2 linked regions of the Homo sapiens genome follow. The protein of the gene in region 2 interacts with the protein of the main gene of each other region in a biochemical or structural test. Each region holds a gene or a part of one and is shown on either strand. Other genes may lie near its edges.

Region 1 (2,606 bases), on a different chromosome or scaffold from region 2:
GGATAGTCAGGTCCAAGGAGATGCAAATGGGGGACGCGGTTAGGGAGTCCCAGAGCCGAGGTAGAGGGGGAGCAGTGGTAAGATGAGCGAGCAGTCGACTCTGGTTGGAAGGGTCCAGGGAAATGGGGTCACTCGGGGACGTGGGCCGCCTCCGGGCGGGCAACGCCTGAGAAGCACGCAGCGCTCGGCGCCCAGTGCGCCCCCACGAGCGGGCACGGCGCCGGGTCTGCCCGGAGCCCGCAGCGCGCCCGGAGGGAAGGCCGCAGCGAGCCGAGGCGCCGCCGCCCGCTGGCGCGGAGAGGGCACGAGCGAACAAGGCGCCTTTGAGAATCCACCGCCCCCCCTTCCTCCTCCGGCCGGCCCCGCCCCCAGCCTGGCACACCCTCTCCCCCCCTCCCCGACAAAGCTTGCCTTGTGTCCCCCACCCTGCGTGCACCTCTTGGGCCCCACGGAACCTCGGCGGCGGCGTCCAGGGATCGCGTCCGGAGCTCCCAACCGGATACCCCCCCCAAGCCCGAAACGGCGCTGCCCATCCTCATACAGTCACCTCAGTCCAGAAAACAGCGATTTTAATTTGAAAGCGATTTTATGTATGAGAGGGGAAAGGAGCCCCAAAGAGAAGGGACGCAGGGCAAAAATCATGCAGCCCCAGCACCCCACCTCTGCGGGCTGGCCACCTCCCCTCAATTCTCAGGCCAGGATCCTGTGTCCCCAGCCTATGCTATGTGCCCAGGGCTGGAGGAGAGCTGTAAAGGGAAGGCCTCCGGGACTACACTCGTGAAACCATCCCCTGTGGGGGCCCTGTCCTCACAGCCCAGGCCCCTTCCCCAAGTTAGACAGGAAGAGATAGGGGGGGCGGCGGGAAGCTGGGAAGGCTAGTGCTTGGAGAGCCCTAGGGACAGGCCATTTCAGGGCCCTGCCTTTCCCAAACACCCACCTCCACCACTGGCATTTCTTAGTCAACCTGGGAAAGTACAGTACTTCTTTGAGTCTAACTGCAAGTCTCTATCCTCACAGGAAATTAAAAATAGCAGATCGGTTCCTACATCTCCACCAGCCCCTTCACCACCACCACCACCTTTTTTATATTTCAGTCTGACTGCAGAAGGAGGTGAAGTGTAAAAAGAGACTCTGGACAGTGACAGGGCCCCTCCCTCTTCCAGAGAGGCCCCCATCTGCCAGGTTTGAGAGGAGGAAGGCCTGTCAGGGCCCTACTCTCATGTCCATCAGCTTGGGAGGCCTGCCCCCCAGTATCCACCTCTGGGGGAGTTCCCCATTTCCACTCTTCAGATGGGAAGCAAAATGAGGCAAGATGAGAAGGAAGCAAGGTCCTGGAGGCAAGGCCAGTGCTTTGTGCTGGGGGAAGGACAGAGGGTGAGAAATCACCCCAAATCATGGGAGAACCCGACAAATTCAGAGACTCAAGGCCACCGAAGAGAGACAACCAGTCCTCACAGGTATCTGGGGTCCCTTCCAACTTGGGATATCAAGCAGATCCCTTGGAGGGTTTATGTTCTTGGTTCTGCCCTGTACTTCTCACCCCATCAAGGTTCTGGGAACATGGCCCCCCACCCTGCCCCAGGGCTTGGAGTCCCTCTTGGATGTGTGCTCCTCCAGTGTGAGAAGCACCACGTCTGGGTCTGAGCTCAGGCCAGTTGATGGGGAGCCTCAAGCATCTCCATGAGGAAGGTGTCGATGGGGGTGTCACCAATGAGCTTGAAGAAAAACAGATGCTCTAGACACTTAAGGCCAATGGACCGGAGGGCAGGAAGACGTAGCAGCAGCTTGGCAAACCTGGGGTGGAGGTGGGAGAAGGGGATTGAGAGCTGGAAGCACACGGGCCCTGAACACATCCTCATAGCACTCCCCACCCCCAAGGGAGCCTCAGTGCCCCCCAGCCCCATCTCACCGTCCCTGCTGCTCAGGGTACTTCTGTTTGCAGTAGGTCTCCAGTGATGCATACACTTTCTCCCGCAGGACCTCCACCTCACTAGGGTTGGAGAGGCCCTTGGCATCTGGGATGGCAGGGAAGAGAGGAGGAAGAGAAATGAAGACAAACCAAATCAGGATGGCCATGCAGATGTGAGCCACAGGATGCCCCTTTTGGGCTGCACTTGCTTGCCCTTTACCAGAGGCCTGGCAAGGGAAGCAGGGCCCACTGGGTTTGTGGGATGGATCCGTGGATGTGGGTTTTTCCTCGGCCAGTTGGGAGATTTCCAGGTTGAGGGTCTTACTGAGGGGGATAGCTGGGTAACTTAGGAGTCTCGGAGAAGAGGAGGCTCCAAGGTTGCCTTGGCCTTGAGAGACAAAGGTAATCCTCCTCTTACCTGGATTAAACAGAATGATTGCCCTCAGGCAGCCAAGCTCTGTCTTGTCCATCCTCATGTCACGCATTTTGGACACTAGCTCTGTCAGCACCCTGGAGAGGGACCTGCAGGTCACTCAAAGGTCACAGCTCAGCCAGCCTTGGACACGGACCAGCCTATAGCCCCACCCCCTCTATCTACATGCCAGCCTAGCCGAGGGCCACTGACCGATCAAAGATGGCTCCTACTCCTGCTGAATGGGCTGAGTTGCGGTGCACGTGAAGACCTGTGGCAAGGAGG
Region 2 (3,817 bases):
TTTTGGAGATGGCATAGGCCACTTAGGAAATACTGCTGTGACTCAAGACGCTGCCATGCTTGAGAGGTTTCAGAGCACAAGTGAGGTCTCCAACAGACCCAGGATGTGATAGCAGTGGCCCTGCCACTTGGGCCACAAAACCCAGCAACCCCCAGGGTCCTTGATGTGTATGTGGTAGGTAAGGATACTGGGTAAAGTCCTGGGAAAGCCTCCACAGAGAAGTCAGTGCAGACACCCAGCATTTGGGAGCAGGCCATGCCATCTACAGAACGGAAGCATAATGAGAGGGGCCAACCTACTTCCTGGCCCTGGTGGCAGCTGTGTGTGTCACCAAGAGACATCGCTGTCTATGACACCAAAGCATCTCCCCATAGTGATGTGCTGTCAGACCCACCACAGGCCCAGTGAACAATGGAAGGGGTACCTCTACGACCGAACCCAAGCATGTCTAGAGGACACAGCACACAACATGTGGCCCAATCCCCCATGACACGCACCTCTGTTGACCAATGACGTCCTCACCTCACTCCCGCCATCACTTCATGGGGATTCACTACAACTTAGGGGGAAACGCAGACCTGATTTGTGGATGGGTTGCTTGGTATACTGGTGCAGGCCTCACTACAGCCTCACATAGGAACAGCCTGAAAGACAGAGGTGGAGCAGAGCCCTGGGCAGGGTATCTGGTCAGCTCTGTGTGGGGGGGAAAACAAGTTGCCTGTGCTGAGGATAACAGGGTCCTAGGCAGGCACAAACGGCTGGTCAGGATCCTGGAGGGAACAAGGTCTAGGTGAGAGGCAGACAGATGGGCCTTGGGAACAGGCATGGGGTACAGGCCTTTGTTTTGCAAACCAATGCTCACCATGGGGCACTAAAAACCAAGCACTGGGATAAGTCGACCAACAGATATTGGCTAGCCTCTGTCCTCACCAGCCCCAGTGTCCACACAGCAGACCTCTGGATAGGGTGACCATCGTGGCCAAGAGCCTCTCAGCAGCATGATCCAGTCATGACCACTGACGATTATCTACCGGGAATGAACAGACAGCAACACTGGGCTTCCATCTGGTGCCATGCCTTGGGGCTGTCAACCAGCCACCTAGTGGTAAGCTGATTATATCAGAACACCCTCTCCTGGAAAGGGCAGTGATTTGTCTCATCTGGGATCCACCCACATCCCAGGTGTGGGTTTGCCTTTCCTTGTGCAGTACCGTGCCGGCACTAACATCTCAGAGATTTACCAACACAGGATTCCATATAACATCAGCTTGGAGCACACGCAGGGGATGCATGTGAGCCAGGTGACCGCGGGGTCCACTGGATCATCTAACGCAACACCACTTAGGAGACGCTGCCCTGACCTTAAAGGCAGAGATAAAATGCCGGCTTGGTGATACACTTCATGGGGTTGGGGTGCCATATTTCAAGATGAACCAACGGCCAATCGATGGTACTGGGTGCCCAATCAGTAAAATGTATGGATGGAGGAAATGGTGAAAGAAGAAGGGGCCTGTCTCACCATCGCTCCAGAAACCCAGTATGAACTCTGCGCTCATCTTCCCCAATTTTAGGTCTGGCAAATCTAGAGGCCCTGGTTCAAACAGGTGGAGAAGGCTTCTACCACACAACACCAAAGCCATGGTGGCCACCTGGTCACTTGGGGCTGCTCGTGCCAGAAGGCCAGCAGGCATCACAAAGAGTTTCCATGCCAGCCAGATCATCTGACCCTCATTACTGTGAAGGGCAGAGCTGCCACTGCATAATTCTGGGAATCAGGGGCTTCACTGGGCCTTTCTCCATGCTCCTATGAACACGCTCCTGTGCGCAGTCTTCACTGCGACTGGATTACCACGGCAGCCAGGGTTGGAAAAAGAACGGCAACAAGTAGGGACTTGGGATGCGCAGGGCTGAGGGTCTGGGTCATCCCACCAGGCCAGCAACCAGTGCAGCAGAAGGCTGGCCACAGGACAGGGGCTCTAGAAAGGGTGGTGGGGACGGGATGATGAACATCAGCTCAGGGGCTCTAGAAAGGGTGGGGGGAACGGGATGATGAACACCAGCTCTGCTTGGACCAGCACAGCAGACGGAGCTCCGCTCTGTCTCCCAGAGACCATGACCAGCACCATCCTAAAGAATGAGCACAGTGAACCCAATGTGAAGTGTGGGCAGAACAGGAAGGAGCCTGGTGCTCCAGCAGGTTCTCCTCTGATGGTGTCAGACGTCCCTTCAGCCCTAACAGCTTGGGTGCAGCACTCGTGGCACACTCAGGGAGCTGGAAGCATCTGAGAATTGACACCCCAGGTGCAGCCCTCAGCCTAATGCCGTGCGGAGGGTGCAGAGGCAAACACGTTGCAGCTCCCTTTCCAGCAGGGATAGCTCTGAGGTGCGACCTACGCTGCTGCCAGAAGTCCCTTGGGAGATGACCCACACTGACCCACCAGGACTTGGCTTGGGACGCAGGATTTCTGGTCCTTCTCTTCCCACCCATTTCCCCATGCCCCTCTGCTGGTTTCTACTGGGAACATAACTTAAGAAATAAATTTCACATGAGTGCTCGTGTCTGCGTCTGCTTCTCGAGAATTCAACCTAAGACCAAACAAATGAGATTTTCTGCCATTGATTTCCAGTGTAATGTGTTGTACTCAAAGAATGTTGCTTTATGATTCAGATGCTTTGAAATTTGTTGAGACAAGTTTATATCCCAGCACTGGTCAATTTTAAGACATAATCCACATATGTTTGGTAAGAATGAGTATTTCCAGATATATATAGAGAGAGATAGAGAGACGGTGGGGGGCAATATTTTGAAATATAAATCCTTACTGGTTTCAGTTTATATATTTTTGATACCACCTTGTTAGATACATATTATACAGATACAAATTTAAGATTCACATCTTCTTGATTAGTTGTTACCATGGAGCTCCAGGTAACTCTCAGGCCAGCAGCCCAAAAGATCTTTGAGAACCACTTTCTTATTCAAGAAAGAACATCTGCTGAGGTAACACCCAATCCCTAAACTCCACCCCTGGAGCGAAGCCTCCACATGTCCAGGGGGTTCTGCGGAACCCAGGAAGAGGCTAACACAGGGCCTGGAGATGCACTGAGGGGAGCAGGCTCTAGAAGGAAACCACCTGGGGACCCTGAAGGAGGGACAGAAATGCTACTTACCGCAATCTCTGTTACTAAAATATCAGTAATACTTCCCAACACAGTGACAAAGTCAAAGACATTCCAGGCATCTCTGAAATAGTTCTAGAGAAAAAGAAGAGCAGTTAGTGCCAGCGGCTGATGAGGGCTCTGTTGGCAAAGAGGTATATATAGGTGGTGGCCCTGATTAAGAAAGCGGTGAGGGTGATAGACCCTGAGCACAGGGCAGACAGGCCACCCCAGGGGGCACAGCACAAGGCCAGAGGTAAGCAGATGTCAAAGCCAGGGACACAGATACCTCTGGGCCTGGGCAGAGGCAGGACTAAGAGCCATGTGTCCAAAGAGGAAGAACCCAGCCCTGCCTCCCTCCCAGGACCTAGGCTGGGGGCAGAGCTTATGTAGCCAAGAGTCTCAGAACAGCCCCTTCCCCAGGGCCCCTGTAGCATTACATATACTCTGGGTACTCGGAGAATTCCCAGCTCCAAATTGTGAGCCCCCAAAGGTCGCCCTACAGATGGGGAACCAGAATATAGGTTGTCAAAAGGCAAAGCAGGGACCAAAGCACGTACCAGCACCCCAAAGGCGATGATCTTCAGCACGCATTCCATGGAGAACATGGATGTGAACACGATGTTCAGGCATTTCAGCATCAGCTCGTACTCATAGG

What was found.
Region 1: the proteins of CACNA1B (region 2) and RXRB form a complex in vitro, tested with the Homo sapiens proteins (one study listed by BioGRID).

Annotation. Positions count from the first base shown.
Region 1 is NC_000006.12:33,193,036-33,195,641, forward strand, and holds the end of RXRB (retinoic acid receptor RXR-beta), read right to left. Parts: coding exon 2,535-2,606; intron 2,432-2,534; coding exon of another isoform or gene 2,420-2,431; coding exon 2,328-2,419; intron 2,016-2,327; coding exon 1,910-2,015; intron 1,795-1,909; coding exon 1,647-1,794; 3' UTR 553-1,646; downstream 1-552. UniProt on the Homo sapiens protein: Receptor for retinoic acid. Retinoic acid receptors bind as heterodimers to their target response elements in response to their ligands, all-trans or 9-cis retinoic acid, and regulate gene expression in various biological processes.
Region 2 is NC_000009.12:138,059,092-138,062,908, reverse strand, and holds part of CACNA1B (voltage-dependent N-type calcium channel subunit alpha-1B), read right to left. Parts: coding exon 3,720-3,817; intron 3,256-3,719; coding exon 3,172-3,255; intron 1-3,171. UniProt on the Homo sapiens protein: Voltage-sensitive calcium channels (VSCC) mediate the entry of calcium ions into excitable cells and are also involved in a variety of calcium-dependent processes, including muscle contraction, hormone or neurotransmitter release, gene expression, cell motility, cell division and cell death.